Homo sapiens: one gene and its partner. The gene in region 2 interacts genetically with the main gene of each other region. Each region holds a gene or a part of one and is shown on either strand. Other genes may lie near its edges.

Region 1 (3,652 bases), on a different chromosome or scaffold from region 2:
ATTATATCCAGGGTTAGTGCTAAGACAAACTTCTGCAACAGGAGGACTACCTTATTTCCCAGCCTTCTACCATACATGTTTTCTACTCTGAGCTTCTGGTCTTGCCTGACTAACCTCAATCATGCGGTCTATCTGCCTTATTAGTGTAACAGTGAAAAAGAAATAGACTTCTGTGACTCGTTGGTCTACGGGTACGATTCTCGCTTAGGAAAAAGAAATAGACTTTTTAGTGGTTATAAAATTTAACTAAGAGTCAGATAAAGTTATTAATCTCTAATCCTATCAGGTCCAGTACAAATTCGTTTCTCATTTCTTCCCAAAAGAAATACCAACCCTTCCTAGAGATATGAGAGAACAGATGTGAAAAGAAACAACACTGAATTCCCCATAAAAGACAATGAGCATTTCCTTTGAGCATTCTGTCAGTGCTCAAAAAGTTTTGAAGCATTTCAGATTTTGGATTTTCAGTTTTGGAGCATTTCAGATTTTGAATTTTCAGATTAGGTATGCTCAATCTGTATATCTATAAGAAAAGGTCCAGTTTCTCAGCTCCTGCTAAGAAACACCCATGGAAAGAACAGAGTATAAGGTTTATTTTTTAAAAAATACACTTTTCTTTTAGAATTTGACATTTGAAGTTCACACTATATATAAATTTACCCCTTATTCCCTCAACTAAGGGCAGCTGGAATGACAAGAGTCTTTGACATATCGGGGAATTAGCACATTATGCTCAGTCCCAATCCCAAGAGGGAACACTGGAGACCTTGACCACCAGGAGAACTTCTTTACCACCAGTTTTCCTGAGTGTGAAAAGTGGAGTGCCTCCTTCGACTTTTCCCCCATCAGGTACCAAAAGAGCTTCAATCACGCCATTTGCTGGTGATGGAACCTGCACAGATGTCTGGAAGAGGAAGACAGATGGAGGAAGTCCAAATGTTTATCCAGCATTAGAAAATTAGCTGTATAGAATCTCCAATGAAGCCAGGCACAGTGGCTCATGCCTGTAGTCCCAGCATATTGGGATGCCAAGGCAGGCGGATCACTTGAGGTCAGGAGTTCAAGACCAGCCTGGCCAACATGGTGAAACCCCATCTCTACTAAAAACTACAAAAATGTAATCCCAGCTACTTGGGAGGCTGAGGCACGAGAATCGCTTGAACCTGGCAGGTGGAGCCGATATCGTGCCACTGCACTCCAGCCTGGGTGATAGAGCGAAACGTCTCAAAACAACAACAACAACAGCGTATCTCCAGTGAGTAACAAGAGTTGCAACACAATATATAAGGCCTTGCACACAAACATCTAAGGCCATAATTTCAGAGCAAGGGTGATAACAAGTCATCGCTACTGTGAAGATTCACTTTCTGTCCTTTCTCAGAAACATTCAGGCAATATTCAGTTAATATGTTTCCAAGTGATACAGGAAAAAGTGGAAACAGCTTATTTACCCTCCCCACCCCCTCACCACACACTACAAGACTAAAGCTACTAAATGAAGTACATAGTACACACACAGCAAACAATTTAAAGTTAAATGCAGGTCAGGTGCGGTGGCTCATGCCTCTAATCCCAACACTTTGGGAGGCCAAGGCGGGCAGATCACCTGAGGTCAAGAGTTTGAGACCAGCCTGGCAACACCTGTCTCTACAAAAAATACAAAAATTAGCCCGGCGTTGTGGCATGCGCCTGTAAGCCCAGATACTAGGGAGGCTGAGGCAGGAGAATCGCTTGAACCCAGGAGGTGGAGGTTGCAGTGAGCTGAGATCAGGCCATTGCACTCCAGCCTGGGCAACAGAGCAAGTCTGTCTCAAAAAAAAAAAAAAAAAAAAAAAGTTAAATGTAAAAAGTTGTTTTTTTTTTAAATTGAACAAATCCAATAATTTTACAACTGAAGTTAGAGCTAGTTAAAAATTATCTCTAAACAATGGTTAAGTCCCTGTTTCTTTCATTAGGTTAACTAAGGGAAGCCCATGAAAAGCTGGTACGAATATAAGATAAGCCTACCTTGTCAGTTTCAATCTCACAAACCACTTCATCTTCTGCAACTGTGTCTCCAACAGCTGAAAAGACAATCAAAGGCTACAAGGCTACCTGTTAGCGGGGAGCCTCCAGTAGCCACAAAACCCATTTTGGCAGGTATGTTATAAGAACCCTTTCCTACAGGGCCAGCAGAAAGTACATATGTAAAGAAAACGGCAGAGCTATAAATTCTACAACTATCCTGAGGGGAGGGGAGAATTTTAGATAGCACTTAAACTTAAGAAGTGAGAGGAGCCAGGCGCAGTGGCTCACGCAGTGGCTCAGGCCTGTAATCCCAACACTTTGTGGCAGGCTGAGGTGGGCAGATCACCTGAGGTCAGGAGTTTGAGACCAGCCTGACCAACATGGTGAAACCCTGTCTCTACTAAAAATACAAAAAACTTAGCCAGGCATGGTGGTGGGCACCTGTAATCCCAGCTATTCGGGAGGCTGAGGCAGGAGAATCACTTGAACCTGGGAGGCAGAGGCTGCAGTGAGCCGAGATCATACCACTGCACTCCAGGCTGGGAACAGAGCAAGACTCTGTCTCAAAAAAAAAAAAAAAAAAAATAGGAAACTAAATCTTACCTTTCTCCCACCTGACATCTCCCTCTGTGACAGATTCTGCAAACGCTGGGGTTTTGACTGTAACCAAGTCATCCTCTAGGAAAAATGCAAAAAAGAAAATCATAAGTAGTTCATTTTTCCTTTTTAATATTTTTCTTTAATTAAACTCAATCAATTGTTGCTCTTCCCATAAAATTCCATTCCCAAGAAAGCAGGTACTTACTGCATACAGCTGTAGTTCTGAAAAAGCGAACACTGAAGACACTGTTGTTAATGCTACAAAAGAAACACACGTTAACTCCTTTTAACAGGCGAACCACTCACATTTTAGTCTAGTTAAGGCCCCATGGGTCACCTTCCCCTTAAACAGTGACTCTTGACCAGGGGTGTCCATCAGTGTCACTTGGGGAGGAACTTTTTCAAAGTTCACTTGTCTAGGCCTCTCCCCCAGGGATTCTGACTCAGCAGGTCTGGAGTAGAGCCTAACGACCCAGGTACCTTAAATGGTGAGCTCCCCAAGTATGCTCAGGCCCCTGTGCTGCAATGCAATGCCAACTCTCACAAAACAGACTTACATTTGGCTCTTTCAATAAAAAAATAAGCACCTTGGTCCTTTGCAGACCGAAATGACTTAGCTTCTTGATTTGGTTTTTTGTTTTTTAAGAGATAAGAGTCTTGCTCTGTCACCCAGGCTAGAGTGCAGTAGCATGATAATAGTTCACTGTAACCTCAAACTCCTGGATTTAAGGGATCCTCCCACCTCTGCCTCCCGGGTAGCTGGGACTACAGGCACATGCCACCCAGATAATTTTTTTAAATTACTTTTTGTAGACTATGGATTTCATTGCCCAGACGGGTCTCAAAGATCCTACCCAAAGTGCTGGGATTACAGGAGTGAGTCACCATGTCCAGCCAGGTCTCTTCCTTAACTAAATCCGAGATAGATTTACGGCCTGCCCAGGGTACAAGCCATTGTGCAAGGTATAATGGAATTTCTGCCCTCAAGATAACAGATTTAGATCAGATAAGGCAGCAAGATTAACAAGGTTAACTCGGAAGTAAA
Region 2 (2,626 bases):
TAAAATACGGTGGCTCACGCCTGTAATCCCAGCACTTTGGGAGGCCGAGGTGGGCGGATCACAAGGTCAGGAGATCAAGACCATCCTGACCAACATGGTGAAACCCCGTCTCTACTAAAAATACAAAAAAATAAGCCAGGAGTGGTGGCGGGCACCTGTAGTCCCAGCTACTCTGGAGGCTGAGGTGGGAGAATGGTGTGAACCCGGGAGGTGGAGCTTGCAATGAGCCAAGACCACGCCACTGCACTCCAGCCTGGGTGACAGAGCGAGACTCTGTCTCAAAAAAAAGAAAAATAAATTAAAAGTTGGTGATTTAATGAAAATTGTCTCCTTCACTGACATTAGCCGAGAGGTCAGAGGTCACACTGTAGACACCAGCTGTCGAGGCACAGGCGCTGCTCGCTCCTCTTAGGCAACTCTTAGGACTTTAACACTCCAGGGAAATCATCATGAAGTCAAACCGCTGCAGGGAACAGTCACACTGGCCCCAGGCCACACAACAATATCACTGGCAGGTTTTATCTTCTCTGAGTAAGTAAGATAAAGTGAAAAGCCTAGTTTAAGGAGCCGGCTTAGCTTGTTCAAAATCCCTGGGCCTGGCTTAGAGCAAGTAGAGACAGGTGTGGGAAAGGAAATAAATCAGACCAAGCTGAGCCCATCATTAAAGTTTAATTCTCTAGAAAGTTTAGTATGAAGTATTTGACATACAAAAAGCCATAAAGAATGTCACGCACAGCTTGCCAGGAGCAAAAAAAAAAAAAAAAAAAAAAAAGACGAAAGAAAAAGCACGTTACAGTGAACGTCCATGTACCCATTGCCCAATTGGAGAAAGAAAACATGCCCAGTGTATTAAAGCCCCTGGTGTGTCCTCCCTGCCTGCCTCCTCTGAGTGAAGCATAATCCTAAATGTGGTTTCTTGTGTTATTCTAGTCTTTTTTTTTAAAGAAAAATCTTTCTGCCAATGGGGATAATGGCTCCATGTGGCCGAGGTGAGACTAAGAATCTGGAGAAAGAGCATCAGTCTGATGTAGCTTTTATTGAGTAAAGGAAAAAGGGAATTCAGCCGCATGATACAGAGGTTCCAGTTGATCAGAGTGCGCAAACACCCTTCCTGTCTGCGTGATGGGAACCGCACCAGCACACGGGGCACGCGGAAGCCACTGCCGCAAGGAGATGGTTCCCACTCTCACGCACATGAGCAGCTCCTGGTCAGTCCCAAGAGGCAAGGGCAGAGGGCATGGTGGCTCTCACAGAGCTACTTTACAAATAAACTGTGTGTCTTCCTCAGGAGTCTCTTACAACACTTTTAAAAAACTGAACAGAAAATAGGGCAAAGGGCCAGGTGGCAGTGCCATGAGGCACATGGAATGTCCTGGTCTGTGGAATCGTGGAGGGTGACAGGAGCAGCATGATCAGGCATTGTATGACGAGGATGACACGGTGCCACCATGGCCTGTCCAGTTGGTGTGGATAAACTGCCCTGGTTTGGCCAAGAGTTCATAGGTGTGAGCCCCGAAGTAATCCCGCTGAGCCTAGGAAACGAGAGAGTAGGTTGGTCAGGACAGTCCATGGCGCACGCCCCCGAGGGGCCAGCCAGGTTAATCCCTGCTCCACAGGCTTACCTGGATGAGGCTGGCTGGAAGCATCTCATGTCTGTACCCGTCATAGAAGGAGAGGGCAGTGGTAAAACAGGGCATGGGAATGCCAGCCTGGACCCCAGTGCTGACTGCCCGCCGCCAGGAGTCCTGAGCACAAAACGCACGGCCAGAGATTAGTGATCTGCCCCTGGTGACGCGGATAGATTTTCATTCATATCAATGTGGGTAAATGAAAAACTGATGGTTAGGCCAGGCGCGGTGGCTCACGCCTGTCATCCCAGCACTTTGGAAGGCTGAGGTGGGCGGATCACGAGGTCAGGAGTTCAAGACCAGTCTAGCCAACATGGTGAAACCCCATCTCTACTAAAAATACAAAAAAAAAAAAAAAATTAGCCAGGTATGTTGGCACACCTGTAGTCCCAGCTACTTAGGAAGGCTGGGGCAGGAGAATCGCTTGAACCCAGGAGGCGGAGGTTGCAGTGAGCCAAGATCATGCCACTGTACTCCAGCCTGGGTGACAGAGCGAGACTCTGTCTCAAAAAAACAAAAAACCAAAAAAAAAAAACAAAAAACCAAACATCACAACTGATGGCCCCAGGGAGGTAGAGTAACCATGGCACCAGCCCTAGGCTACATACCTGGCAGTTTTCAACAGCTGACTTAAAGAAGTCGTCCAGTAGGAGGTTCTGAAGTTCCGGGTTTCGATCAAATGCATCCTTTATCTTTCCTAGGAATACACTGAAATAATCAAGGGGGGAAAAAAGCAATGAGTCTTTTTTTTTTTTTTTTTGAGACGGAGTCCCGCTTTGTCACCAGGCTGGAGTGGAGTGGCACGATCTCAGCTCACAGCAACCTCCACCTCCCAGGTTCAAGCGATTCTCCTGCCTCAGCCTCGCCAGTAGCTGGGATTACAGGCACGCACCACTACAACCGGCTAATTTTTGTATTTTTAGTAGAGACAGGGTTTCACCGTGTTAGCCAGGATGGTCTGGATCTCCTGACCTCGTGATCCGCCTGCCTCGGCCTCC

What was found. Genes that interact genetically often act in the same process or in processes that back each other up.
Region 1: changes in PGD (region 2) and DLST together harm fitness more than expected from each alone (negative genetic interaction), as found in Homo sapiens cells (one large-scale study listed by BioGRID).

What each region holds. Positions count from the first base shown.
Region 1 is NC_000014.9:74,888,308-74,891,959, reverse strand, and holds part of DLST (dihydrolipoyllysine-residue succinyltransferase component of 2-oxoglutarate dehydrogenase complex, mitochondrial isoform 1 precursor), read right to left. Parts: intron 2,866-3,652; coding exon 2,813-2,865; intron 2,686-2,812; coding exon 2,611-2,685; intron 2,064-2,610; coding exon 2,008-2,063; intron 905-2,007; coding exon 793-904; coding exon of another isoform or gene 734-792; exon of another isoform or gene 1-733. UniProt on the Homo sapiens protein: Dihydrolipoamide succinyltransferase (E2) component of the 2-oxoglutarate dehydrogenase complex. The 2-oxoglutarate dehydrogenase complex catalyzes the overall conversion of 2-oxoglutarate to succinyl-CoA and CO(2).
Region 2 is NC_000001.11:10,418,536-10,421,161, reverse strand, and holds the end of PGD (6-phosphogluconate dehydrogenase, decarboxylating), read right to left. Parts: intron 2,337-2,626; coding exon 2,237-2,336; intron 1,746-2,236; coding exon 1,623-1,745; intron 1,533-1,622; coding exon 1,413-1,532; 3' UTR 651-1,412; downstream 1-650. UniProt on the Homo sapiens protein: Catalyzes the oxidative decarboxylation of 6-phosphogluconate to ribulose 5-phosphate and CO(2), with concomitant reduction of NADP to NADPH.